2 linked regions of the Homo sapiens genome follow. The protein of the gene in region 2 interacts with the protein of the main gene of each other region in a pairwise test. Each region holds a gene or a part of one and is shown on either strand. Other genes may lie near its edges.

Evidence for each region. Proteins that work in one complex are often made in the same cells at the same time.
Region 1: the proteins of CHD1L (region 2) and BAALC interact in a two-hybrid assay, tested with the Homo sapiens proteins (one study listed by BioGRID).

Annotation. Positions count from the first base shown.
Region 1 is NC_000008.11:103,206,725-103,213,755, forward strand, and holds part of BAALC (brain and acute leukemia cytoplasmic protein), read left to right. Parts: intron 1-6,194; coding exon 6,195-6,361; intron 6,362-7,031. UniProt on the Homo sapiens protein: May play a synaptic role at the postsynaptic lipid rafts possibly through interaction with CAMK2A.
Region 2 is NC_000001.11:147,273,669-147,280,699, reverse strand, and holds part of CHD1L (chromodomain-helicase-DNA-binding protein 1-like), read right to left. Parts: intron 5,347-7,031; coding exon 5,232-5,346; intron 4,597-5,231; coding exon 4,443-4,596; intron 675-4,442; coding exon 509-674; intron 1-508. UniProt on the Homo sapiens protein: ATP-dependent chromatin remodeler that mediates chromatin-remodeling following DNA damage.

The sequences.
Region 1 (7,031 bases), on a different chromosome or scaffold from region 2:
TTTTGTGCAAGTGACTCCTAGGGGCATTCCTGGGAGAAGAGTGTGAAGGAGGGAGGGAGAGAAGCAGGATGGGGCAGGACAAGGAGCTGAGCAAAGATGTGGTTTCAGGATTAGTCTAGCCTCAGCCTGATCCTATGGGTCACTTTGGAGTGAAAGGACAGAAATTGCTTAGAAGCAAAGGAGCTGGGCTATTGTACCCACTCTCCCCACCAACAGGTATTTTTAGTTGGTCATTAGCATGGACTGCCACTGATATTAATATAATCGGCAAGGCTTCTCCTGGTAAGGGGGCTCCCTTCAGTCAAGGGCAAGCCTTAGGAGAAGAAGCCAGGGGTGAGCTGTTAGCTACCAACATCCACCACACCTGGGGATGGGTGCAGGGTCAGGTGTGTGGATCTGGGCAGGCACTAATAGCATCTGTTGGAAGGACATACAGCTCTGTTGACAGGTCCAGGGGAGGAAAAAATAACTTTCTTTCCACTCTTAGTTCTTAGCTGTGATTAATTCTGTAATGAAAGACAGATTAATAAGATAAAAGCAAACAGAAGCTCATTAACACGTATATTTTACATATACATGGGAGATATCTAGGCAATTACTAAATCTCAAAGAAGTGGCTTGGAATTCCAGCGTATGTAGCATCTTCAACAAAAACCAGTAAATTTTTAGAGAAGTGACAAGACAAAGGAAAAGGACTTTGAGTCTCTAGGGGTAAAAAATTATGGGAAGGCAGATAGACAGTAGATAAAGGCTAGTTAGTAAAGCTTGTTAATGTAGATTCCTCTGGTGCCCTCTCCAGGCTGATAAGGGTCTGAAGTTGTCTTCAGTGATCAACCTTTGTCTTTCCTGGTAGAGAGGGGAAGAAGCCTTTCCTCTTGTTTAGTGACCAGTGAAAAGTAAATTTATGCCCTACTTTTAGGCAAATGGCAGGGGGAGGGGGCAGGTGGGAGGCGGTGACAGAGAACTACTTCTCCATTGCCTTCAGCTTAAAATAATCCTTATGCCAAAGTGGCACATTTTGGGGTGGCATATTCTGGTCTCCTACACAGGACATATCGCTGGGTGAGGAGGTAAAAAAATTATTTTTCCTTTGTGTTTTTCTGAATTCTAAAAGTTTTCTAACATTGAATCTATTTTTCATAACTAGAAAATATGAGTTAAATAAAATCCATGCAGCAAAATCACCTGGTTTGTTACAGATAGAAGTAACAGAAAATTACCTTATATTCCTAACCCCTTGGGGTGTCCTCTTGACCACACTGGACAGATGACCCCTGCTCATTGTTTGGCAAATGCCAATCCCCCAAGCTGGCCCTGGTTGTCACAGAGCTTCTCTGTTTCATCATACTCAGTAAGCCAGTGGCTTAGCACTTAGCTGGTTGTGTGACTCATAAATCAGGAATGCAACCAGTGTGGCTAATGGAGAGGGGCAAGAGGCGGGGATAGGCTGTGCCACCAATAATCAGTGCAATATGTGTGCAGGCATCGTTAGAACCTTTAGATATGGTCTCACTTAATCTTTACAATCGCCCCATGAAGGTGGCAGTATTATCTCCATTTAATAGATGAGGAAGTCTAGACTGGGGGGTTAAGAAACCAAAGTTGTAATTTTTGTTTGGCCACCAGTGAAAAATGAAAACTCTAGACCAAATGATGGATTTTTAAACTGTGTTTCTAGCAGCGCTTAGGCTTAGCAAAGATGCCGGGGATAGGAGGAGCTGCTGAGAGGGAAGGACTGGCCATCGGCACCTCAGTTATGGCAGCTCTGCCTTGGTCTGTTTTATGGGTTGGCAGGGATAGCTTCACGAATGTGCAGCCAGTGCAGCCTCACGGGGCCTGCTGGGCTCACAAGGGGCCCTGCGCTTAGGACCTAATGCTCTGCAGGCACCATCGTGAAATCCTTCATAATTTTGTCTTTTAATGTGTGTTTTATAAGTAAATCCAATGGACAATGGAGCGTGTCCCCGGGCTTGGAGCTGTAAATCATACTTGGCCCCACTTGCTGTTGCCTTTCTGCCTCCCTGGGATATATTCCCTGCTGCCTGCTCTTGATCCTGGTGCGTAAGGCCTCTCCTTGCTTCCCTGCTGCCCTCCTCATGGATCAGCAACTGGATTGCATTGGGAGAAGGGAGAAGGGAGCTGTGTTTCATGTCCTTCAACCCCCAGGAGGACCTGGCCATAGGCATAGGGAGGATTGGGGTCAGGTGTGCCCCTTGAAGTGTCTCAGGTATGACAAGGGAGTGGCCATCCCCATCCAGGCTGGCAGCATCATGGTGCATTCAGTGGATGGCTCAGTAGGGGCCTCTCACAGACCTTTGACCCGGGTACCAAGTCATGACGCACATAGAAAATGGCAACATCTGGAGGCTGGGTGTGGGGGCTCACACCTGTAATCCCAGCACTTTGGGAGGCCAAGGCGGGTGGATCACTTGAGGCCAGGAGTTTGAGACCAGCCTAACCAACACAGTGAGACTCCATCTCCATTTAAAATACAAAAATTAGCTGGGTGTGGTAGCGCATGCCTGTAGTCCCAGCTACTCAGGAGGCTGTGGCAGTTCAGTTGCTTGAACCCAGGAGGCAGAGGCTGCAGTGAGTTGAGATCATGCCACTGCACTCCACCCTGGGCAACAGAGCGAGACTCCATCTGAAAAAAAACAAGGCAACATCTGTATGGCACACTGGGGGAGACAGCAAGCAAAGGGAGCCCTGGCCAGCCTTGACTCCCATTCAGCAGCCCCAAGGGCTGAAGGCAGTTCTACCCTAGGCTTAGGAAATGGAGTCTCTACCTTGGTCTTGTGCTTCAGACACCCCTTGCCCCTTTCACCCCATGAGCCCCACCCTTCCCACAGGCTGAGTTATCCAGAGGCCAAGGGGACGTATCTACCAAAGCCTCAGCCCTCCTTCAGAATTCATTGCTTTTATTCCCCCAGTCCATTACAGACAAATATATGGTCTTACTTTGTGTGATTAATACACAACTCACCCCACTTGTGACTCACCCCATGAGTTTAAAAGCACTCAACTTAGTTTGCACCCTGCTCAATCAGTAAGTTCAACTAGACAAGTCTGCCTTTGGATGTTCTGGCAATGTCAAATTGCTATAGAAATTTGTAAATGCTTGCAATCAGTTCTTATATGTATCCCACAGCAGACAGTAACAACAGTTTGGTCCCTGGAGGACACTGAGTAGCACTATTCTAGGCTCTTCTGTGGGTGCTGGGACCCTGGAATCCAGTCTGAATGACACCAAATCCAAATCCACACCAAGCCTGCTTCCAGAGTCTTTATGGGCCTGTTTTCCTGATCTCTTCTGCAGGTGTACACTGCCCTAGCCCCAGGCTGTTTGCAGGGAGGAGTGGGCAGAGATGAGACATGTGTACTGTGGTGTTCATACACATGCATCTCAGGCCCCTTTAGGTACAGGATGGAGAAAAGGTGGGAATGGGAAGAGCAGGGGCAGGCTGTAATTGGTGGAGGAAGGAAGCCACAAGGATTTGGGACAAGCCTAGCTGCAGGAATCCATTTCTCTGTTCACCTTGAATCCATCACAGCACCCCAATGTGCTGAGGCCTGCCAGTCAGGGAGCTCTGGACCAGATACTTTCCACTGTGACTTTCAATGTTTTGAATTCTGATTTCTATCCCATGGTCACAGTTGAAAGCTCATTAGCATTTGGCACAGCAAGTGGGTGACACACAGATAGGTGTCCTGTGGACACTGCCATCTCACTGTGTGGGAACTGCAGTCTTAGCAACTCTGCCAGTCAACACCCTCCCGCCCTTGATATACAAAAATACACTGCGCTTCTGATGCCTGCCCCATGGCAAATAATTTCTCAACACCCAGGGAAAGGATTTTGTTTGTTTTTCTTTACGTTTGATTAAAAGCAAGCCCAGGCAAATACCCCAAAGGAAAGAGAAACAAATGACTTTACAATTAAAATATAAACCTACACAATTAGTCATTAGGCATATAAATAATATAACATCTTTAGTAAATCAAGAAGCATTAATCCAAGCAATGAGATACTTTATTTTTCCTCTTAAATTGACAAAGATGAAAACCAGAAAAGAAAATATTCAGTATTTGTCAGGATTTAGGGAATATTGCTGTCTTATATACTGTTGGCAGATGGTCAACAGAAGACAGACTTGTAGAGGTAAATTTGAAAATATATTGCAGAAGACTTAAAAATGTGTATATCCTTTGAAATCTTGAAAACATTGTTTCATAGTCTTCTTATGAAACAATGTTTTCATAAGATGAATGAAAAGTTGATGTCTGTCTCACTCTTGATTTTTTTTTCCTCTTCTTAAGCTGTTCTTGATATCACTGATGTTCTGAAACTTCACTAAGGTCTGTCTTAGGTTGGGCTTCTCTTGCCAAGTATTTGGTAGCCTACTTCAAATTGAGGTTTCACATCTTTCTTTGGTTCTAAGAAATCTTTATTATTTCTGTGAATATTGCTTCCCCTCAATCTTCTCTAGCCTCTCATCTACAACTCTTATTAGATCAAGGCTTAATTTACTGGATTTCTATCCTGCATTTCCTAATAATGTTCAGCCCTCTGTGCTACCATGGAGAATTCCTTGGCCTGCCCTTTCAGCTCACGAAACTGCTCTTTCTGTCTATCGTGTTATTCAGCTTCTCTATTGAGGGTTTTTTCTTTCAACATTTAAGATTATTATTTCAAATATCTCTGATTGAACATTTTTGGGTAACTCGTCCTCATTTTGTGGTTATATTATCTCCATTTTTCTGAGCAGATTGACTATACTTATTGAAAATTCTTTTCTGAATACCATATTAACTCCATTTCTTTTGGGGATCTCCATTGCAGAGTTAGTTGTCTCTTTTTTGTGGTGTTGGCCTTCCTCAAATGTTTGCTCATTCTTGTTTTTGTACTGATTTTTGTAACTGAAGTTTCCTGCTAGAATGTCATCTGCATCTATTTGAGAGAGCCACTTGGAGAGCAGGGATGGGAACTACTATTGGCCTAACTCTTGGCACTATTTTCAAAATACCAGTCTTCTTAACCTGGGTTTTTCTTTCTCGCAGGTGTCTCCAGCTCCTGAGAGCACTGCCCTTCTCTCTAGTCCCTGCCCCATACAGACTCCTCTATTGTTGCTGACTGGCCTCAGCAGGTGGAAGAGTAGAAAGTCCGGGCTACCTTGCTGCTTCTTGCCTCCCTGTAACTATGGCAGAAACTCTGTCAGCTTCTGACATCATACTTGGCATTCCCTGTCATGCTTCCTGGGCCACCTTTTCTCTTTCCAATAAGATTCTGTTCATCCTTTATTAACTCCTCAGTGTAGTCCTCTCCCTTTTCAGTGAGGCTATTTATTTAAACTTCTATCATTTCTTGGCATTTGTTGTAAAAGGCACACATACTCAGTCCAACACTTTGAGCTGGAGCTATTAAAAAAAATCTCTGTATTGGCCAAGCATGTTATCTCATGCCTGTAATCTCAGCACTTTAGAAGACTTAGGTGGGAGGATTGCTCAAGGCCAGGAGTTCAAGACCAGCCTGGGCAACATAGTGAGACCCTGTCTCTACAAAAAAATATACAAAAATTAGCTGGGCATGGTGACACGTGCCTTTAGTCCCAGCTACTTGGAAAGCTGAGGTGAGAGGATCGCTTGAGCCCAAGAGTTTGAGACTGCAGCAAACTATGATCATGCCACTACACTCCAGCCTAGGCAACAGAGTGAGACCATCTCTCTAAAAAACAAAACAAAATAAAAACCCAACATTTATATAACCTTCAAGCCAGTAATCCCACTTCTAGGAATTTATCCCAAGGAAGTAATTTAAAATAAAACTTTAACCACAAGGTGTTTCATCACAGTAGGATTTATTATGAAAATGTGGAAACAAATATCCAAGCAAAGGGGATTAGGTAAATAAATGATGACATAGACATGTGAAAAATAACATGGCAGAATATTTAATGGTATAGAAAAAAGTCATCAAGGTATCATTAAGTAAAAATTTCAGGTTACAGAATTGTTTTAAAATCTCCTTTTTGTAAAAAGCATATATGTTCTTATAGAAAAGGGTAGCTCTGCATGGTGGGATTTCTGGCAACTTTTGTTTTTTCATTTTGACTATCTGTTTCTCCACCATTTTGGGATTGTTTGCAACATCTGCCATGTGCAAGCTTCTGGTTCCATCCTCTGCTTACCTCCCCCAGGCATGCTGGAAGATGGACTGCCCTCCAATGGTGTGCCCCGATCTACAGCCCCAGGTGGAATACCCAACCCAGAGAAGAAGACGAACTGTGAGACCCAGTGCCCAAATCCCCAGAGCCTCAGCTCAGGCCCTCTGACCCAGAAACAGAATGGCCTTCAGACCACAGAGGTAGGGTTGCAGCCACAGAATCAACTGGGGACTGGAGAATGGGGGTAGGGCTTGCTTCAGGGCAGAGCCACCCAGCCGCTATGTCCAGGGAGGGACCAGGGATGGCTCATCTTGGAAAAAAAAAGTCTCTGCCCCACCCATGTAAAAATTGCTGCAAACCCCACCCCAAAACCCTGCCTTGAGGGTTGCTGCTTTTTGTTTCCATGTGTATGTTTGCTTAAGTACAGCTTTATTCAAGGATCTTGTTTTCTGTGGCCACTGTCACCATGTTGATGGTGAGGACTGTGCTGGTTAGAGGAACCAGTCTTAGGCCAGGCAGCTGGCCAGTCTCAGGGGTTGGCAGGGTGGGGAGTGGGCAGAGGAAGGAAAGAGAAGACCAGAGTGGTTGGAAACAAGCCTCGCATTTTACTCAGGCCCTCCAACCAGGTGGACATTGGAAGGGCCCCCAAGGGTGGCTCTCATAGCAGAATGTGGTGACAGCATCATCCCCAGACTGTTGGAAGAGGCAGGTCAGTGATGTCCCAGGACGTGGCGGGTATCCTTTCTTTTCTCCCAGAGCTATTGTTGGGAAGATCCTCTTATGGGTACAGGAGGGGCAGCCCAGAATGAGCGCTCTTAGTAGGCAGGGCTCAGGCATCTGCAGTCTCTTCCTCTTCCACCCAGTTCCTCC
Region 2 (7,031 bases):
AAGAGAAAGACAAAACCATCTCCTACATCTCATGGATTACAGAAATTAAATGGAAAAAGCACATGACAAAGTCCGCACTGTTGATGAACGCAAAATAAATGCTTAATGTTAGCTGCAATTTTAAAAACAAGTAATTCTACTGTTTAGAAGAGGAATCGCTATGTGCAAAGCATCATACCAAGGATGGTAGGCTTTACTAATAAAGAAGAAGATGTTTGCAACCAAGGGAGAAAAGGTACAAATTCAAAGCCTTAAGATTGATACTATCATAAACATTAATACTATGATTTTGGTTCACAGTTCAGCTACAAGGGAAGAGCCACACAAATTTCCAGTTAGTTTGGGTAACGTTCTTTTATCAAGCAAGTCTTAAACAGTGTGCCCAAATGACAATAGGGTAAGGGAGAAAAAAGATGCCCCAGAGAGCAGCATCCAAAACTTTCCATGGGGACGTGAGCTCTAGCTTGGGGTGGTTGTGCCATTTGCTCTGCTCTAACCTCCAACTTACTTCCTTCCTCTTGATCTCTGCTCCCTCCTTCTGCTGCAGGCAAGGCATCAGAGACCCACTGGCCATCTTTTGTTTCTCCCAGGATGGACTCCAGGTCTATTTCATCCATGGTGCTCCCCTCAGAGGCCAGCAGTTTATCCAAACCAAATTTGAGTATCTCACTCAACTTGAATAGAGGAAACAAAAAAGTCCAGCAAATTCTCATGAAAAGAAACATTAGGATATCAGTGATTGGCTAAGTGGATTAACGACACCAGGCACAGTCCTTCTCTAATGAACAGGCAGCCTTTCTGCTCTCCCCATCATAGATAGTAACAGCCAGGGCCATTTAATAGTTGGATGATGGGTAAGCAGAGAGGTGATAAATGATTATCAGAGGTATTGACTTTGACAATTCTGCATAAAAACAAAACAAAAAAAATGTATAAGCCTCCAATTTTTTTGAAGAATAATAGTAACTTCCTGCATTTTCTACAGCACCTCTCACTGACTTTTTCATAAGCATTCCCAGCAGCCACTTGAGATCAGAGACCCTGTTAGCTACTTTCCAACCTCTCCACTGCCAGACTCCTTAGAAAGGGAAGGCTACACTAGGAACTTTACCTCTATCATGAACTGACTCCTTTTCTTTGGCAATTTGTTTTCCTAACACAGTGGTCTATCGAAACCACCTTGGCAAAGATCAGTAACAACTTCTGACCACCAGACCCGAAGGCCTTTTCTCAGTTTGAATTTTTCTGGATGTTCCTCTGGCATTGCACTATCCTGCTTCTCTTCTCTCGTCCCTCTCTGGAGTACTCTCAGCCTATTCCCTATGGCTGTAGGAACCATGCAGAAAGCACAGATAATTTTTCCTGGCTTTCACTTGCTACTTCCAACTTTGCACCTCCGTAAGCACTAATTCTGAGATCCTGACCCAAGGTGGATTCAAACCTTGGGCCCTTGTTCTCATCTTGCCCTTTTAGACTGGGTTATCTCCAGATCGTCTATTTTGTGAGTAACTTGGAAATGTTAAGGTATTCTGTAACAGCTTGAAGAAACAATAGACAGCTCACTTAAGCATGAATGTACCTAGATATATTATATTTACCCTCCATACACATAACCAGGATGACTGGCTTTGGCAGCTGGTACCAAAAATAGTAGGAAGCCAACTATTTATGATAAGAATTGGTCCATACTGGGACCCTCCCTTTCACCCCCTTGTACTTATGCTCACCTCCTGGCTCTCCCTTGTTATTGCTCACTTGCAATGTGTCTTAGTCATTAAGAAAATTACATGTGTTTTTATGAGAAGCTGTATATTACAGTAATTAAGGGCATGTGCTCGGAGGTTAGAGAGTGCTTGGATTGGAATCCTAAATCTGAATAACCTTGGGCAAATTACTTAAGATGGGGATAAAGATAGTGTCTATCTCATCCTGCTGTTATTCTTATTTACTGAAACAACTGGAAAAGAGCACCTCAGACAACACTCAGCACACAGTATCCAATAAGTGTTCACTACACCTGCATCTGCCTGCCTGTTTCTACTGTGTCCTCCCTGCAGGATAAAAAACCTGTTTCCTTCTTTCAGGACTTCAGAACTCCATACCTACTGCTTAGATTTACCAAATCAGAACCACATCTTTTACTTTTGGTTTCTTGGTATTTAAAAAAAAAAAAATACCCCCAGGCGCAGTGGCTCATGCCTGTAATCCCAGCACTTTAGGAGGCCGAGGTGGACGGATCACAAGGTCAGGAGATCAAGACCAGTCTGGCCAACATGGTGAAACCCCGTCTCTACTAAAAATGCAAAAATTAGCTAGGCGTGGTGGTGCGCGCCTGTAGTCCCAGCTACTCAGGAGGCTGAGGCAGGAGAATTGCTTGAACCCGGGAGGCAGAGGTTGCAGTGAGCTGAGATCGCGCCACTGCACTCCAGCCTGGCAACAGAACGAGACTCTGTCTCAAAAAAAAAAAAAAAAAAAAACCCAAAAAACAAAAACAAACAAAAATCCCCTGCTTTCTTTTTAGACAAGGGCTCTGGGTTATCACCTTTGCTTTTGGTAACCACAAATAACTCATAGCATCTGCATGGGGAAGAGATAAATCAGACATTAGAGTCAGAAAGTAACTTTCCGATAACCATGAGCTGGGCAAGAAGTCCAACAGAGTCGCTCTCAGCCAGCAGTCCATGTTCCCACTCGTTTGTGGCCCCATGGGGTGGAGGTATGTCTACATCTTTCACAGTGATGTGTCCAGCAGCCCACATCACAAGATACCCCTCATTGGACCCCTGGCGCTCCCTCCACTGGGAGAGTGCAAACAACCTATGACATCCTTCCTCCTCTAACAAGAGAATGCGGGCCTTGTGAGGCTCTGTCATTTACCCCTTCACTATGCCCAGCAGTGACCTTCTCTCTCTTAAGGTTCTATGGATAATTTTTCTGTGGAAAACTGCATTTAAGGGTATCTACAGCGTACCTCTACCTCTCTCTCAAGCTTTCATCTCACATTTATAATTGTCTCTTAGTGTGAAAACAAAATGTACAGCCTGCCCTAGCACCATTATGGTTAATTAAGCATGCATGTGACACAGTCAGCAACACAAGGAAAGTCAGAAAAAGAAAAAAGCCACACCTACCCCCTAAGATAAACAAAGAACAAACCCAGTGTTACTCTTTCTAGTTCTAGTCCCAAAATTAATAAAACCTTGAGCCTTTCCTGTAATTACTAACTCCCTAACAAAAACAACAGGATCCCTGTCTTTTGCAACACTGATATGTAAAGATATGCACTGGCCTTTGCAGATACGGTAACCATGTAAGAAAACTGCTGTTTTTTCAGACTAATTACAAACTTAGTAACTCTGCTTCTAATATTGTGTCACTTTTTCTCTCTTAAACACTTATGTTTTTTGATGGACTAGTCCTTTCCAATCCTAGTCCATCTTGCAAACTTTTACAAATAAAATTCTTTCCTTTTGTCTGAGTCTGCCTCTAACAATAGTTTGTTTATATTGTATTTTTACTGCACACTCTGACTAAAGCCTAAATTCTCTTTATCTTCCTAAAACTCTGCCCTACTTCTTATTTTCCTTTCTTCTCTCCTCATCATAGGGGCCTAAAACCTCACAGCCATCTTTGAATTTTCTATCTCCCTACTGTTGAGACCCAACTCTAAACAGTAGCCAACTCCTGTCCTTCCTTCTTTTGCAATGTTTCTCACACCAGACTCTCCCACTGATGCTGCCCTTGACAGACATTTATTACTCCCTTCATACCTGCATCTTTCTAGTATCCTAGGAGTTGGTCTCTTTGCATCCAGCCCCTCATCCTTAGGGCAAAAACAAAGCATCCAGGAAATATTATGAGTTTTAATTTTAACCCAAGGGCTGCTACAGAGTAACTCTAAGTCCTCTTCCAAAAGAGAGCTCTAAAATCTTCCAATCCAGTGTCTGTCTCCCATCCAGTACTCCCTTCTTTAAATAAATTACCTCTAGTTCTTTCACCCATTTTTTCTAAGGCACAATTATGAATTCCTGATCTCATTCGCCCTCTTCTGAGTATGAAGTAATGTAAGTCACTGATCAAAGGCTCTGGGACTAAGGTGGAAGTACAGAATTAATTGTTATTGAGTTCTTTATTTTAACTAATTCTCTTAACAGCCCTCTGAGCTAACCTGTGGTGTCTTTATTTTTAGAAATGCAAAAAGAGTAGATCTAAGAAGTTAAGAAAGCCGCTCAAACCCAAACAGCCAAGAAGTGATGAGGCTTGGAACTAATCCTTACTTCCTACAGACCCTGCACACAGCCAGCACTGTGGCAGGTGTGAGGGAGGCCAAGGAACAAATGTGTAGCTGGGGAGAGGGTGAGTGCTGGTTCTTTTCATTTACATTCTCCTCCACAAAGGGTATTGGTATATTCCAAAGTGAAGAACAGTATATCATATCATACCTGGAGGTCAGCATCGGCAGCGGGTTTCTGGGCTCCCAGAGTAAAATGGCCTCCTTCTATGATCATGTTGGTGAGCTGCAGTTTGGAGGCTGCTTTCCTATAGACTATTTCTTCCACAGTGTCTCGACCAATCAGCCGAATAACTTTAACAGACCTGGACATAAGTCAAACAAGGGTAGTGTGCTATAAGGGTGTGCAAAGCTGGGCAAAAGTATGCAAGGTAAATACATCTAAAAGCAAACAAAACCAAATACCATATTCAGGGTACAATGAAAGGGAGATTGGTTCATTTGGTCCTGAGCACTTGTTAGAGAGAACTCGCCTGAAATTCTCTCTGAACCATTCCAGACAGTCAAAGAAAGAATGATGGGGTAACCATGACTGGGATTCCTTATCTGTAGCCAAGGAAAATATCTGGAAGATCAAATTATCCTCAGATCAAAGGGCAACATCTATCTTTCTTTTTTTTTTTTTTAGCTTAGCTCCATAGCCCCATAACCCCATTTTTTAACTGAGTCAGACCCTAACTCAAGAAGGATGAGTTAAATGACTTCTAAAGTTTCCTTCTAATCCTTTCACAGTTTGATTTGACTCCTTCTAATAAAGTCAGTCTGGACTGATAATGTGACCCACCCAATACTACCCTAGGAGTCAATAGCACAGATGAGCTAAAACCTGGTGGTCTCTCAGCTCCCAGTGTGGGACTGTCACCAGGACTATATTCTTCACCTTTTTCACAACCCAGAACTGCTGCTGGGCAAGCCAAGGAAGCAGAAAAAAATCACTTACTTGTTTTGGCCAATGCGATGAGCCCTGGCAGCTGCTTGCAAGTCATTCTGAGGATTAAAGTCACTGTCAACAAAAATCACAGTATCTGCTGCTGTTAAGTTCATGCCAACTCCACCTGAAAACAATGCAAAAAGGAATGTAATCAGCAGCACAAAGACGAGGAGCTAGAAAATAAGCACAAGGCTAGAGTGGGTCAGACTGATAAACTGAAATCAGTCAAAACAATTGGCTTCATCCTTCAAATGGACCCACACCCCTAACTCCAAAGCCTTGTTCCAGCGGTGAGAAGTGCTACCTGACCTCTTATTGCCTGATGGGAAAATTTTTATTACTGAATGGAACAGAATGAGCGGAGCAGGGGCAAGTGGCCAAGGTGGATACTTAAGTCAGTGCCATGGAGCCACTTTATCTCTTCTGCTTAAAAACCTTGATTAGATTTTGATTAGAGTAGTCTGAGGAAAAGGACACATGCTCTTTCAGAAAACAGATCTAAATATGAGAGGTCTGCAGTGCGCACTGTCAAGAGAAGAGTGCCGAATGTCGCTTGCAAGTTACAACTAGGTAGCAAGATCTCTGATAAAAAGTTAATGAGAAGAGTGGATGATATTATACTCCTGAGCAGAGTGGGAAACCTCCTCCCTCTGATTAGAGAAAACTCCAGTGAGTCTTTTTTGTACTGGTTTCCACATTAATCAAAAAGAAAGTAACAAAACCAACGGCAAGACAAGAACACTCTTGTCATTTACTCTGAGTGTTCTGAGGCTTGCTCAGAACACTCTTGCTGGTCTTTCTTCAGTGCTGCAGGAAGAGAGCTGAGGAGGTACCTTGAGTTACAGGAATTAATTAAGAGAACCGTGAAGGTACATTGCAGCCTTCTCTTTGATTAATGTGAAAACAAGTACAAAACAGACTCCCTCTTGCCAGGGTCGTTAGAGCTGGTTGCTGAAACAAGCAAGCCTGAAAGGGCTTGTTCCATAAACCTGAATTAAGGACTAACTTTTAAGAAGGACTACTGACCATAAGCTGGATCTCCAGACAAATCAGGCAGGAATATTCTAATTAAAGTCTTCGTATCAAGTTGAAGTTGGAACAAGGAGGTAATCATGACCGATTACTGAGAGATGCTAAATTATACCTAATAATAATGATAATGACACTTACGCTGTGCTTACTACTTGCCAGGCATTATTCTAAGCACTCTCTCTATATTAACTCCTTTAACCCTCACAACAACCCTGTCGGGAAGTTGAGTAGTTGCTACGATTTTCCCCACTTTATAGATGTTGAAAGGGAGGGTAAGGGACTTCTCTGAAGTTGCAAGCCTAGAAGGTGAAAGAGCCAGGATTCATTCCCTTGCAGTCTTGGTCCAGAGCCCGTGCTTTTATCCACTATACTATAATACTTTTCAGGTGCTTATTTCATTTTAAAATGTGTTCCATAAAATTATCTTCTTGAATTCATGTTGTCTAAGTGCAGCTCTTCACCGAGGGGTGAGATTTTTATAAATAAGCCACACCCACATCCATGAATAGGAACATATTCATGAGCTATCACTGCCATCTGGTGGCAACATGACTCATCACAGAAATATTTGAAATTTGGAAGGAAACCTGTTAAATAAATGAAAATACTGCAAAACTACAACAAAACTGTGACAGCAAACACAACAGTGTTTGGAGAAGACTAATGTCCAGGACTGCTTCAGCTCCCAGATCTACTCTGAGTCCTCCAAGGAGATTAACTGAAAAGCAGAGATCTCTTTTTTCCTAATTTTAGACATTTCAAACATAATGCTGCTCT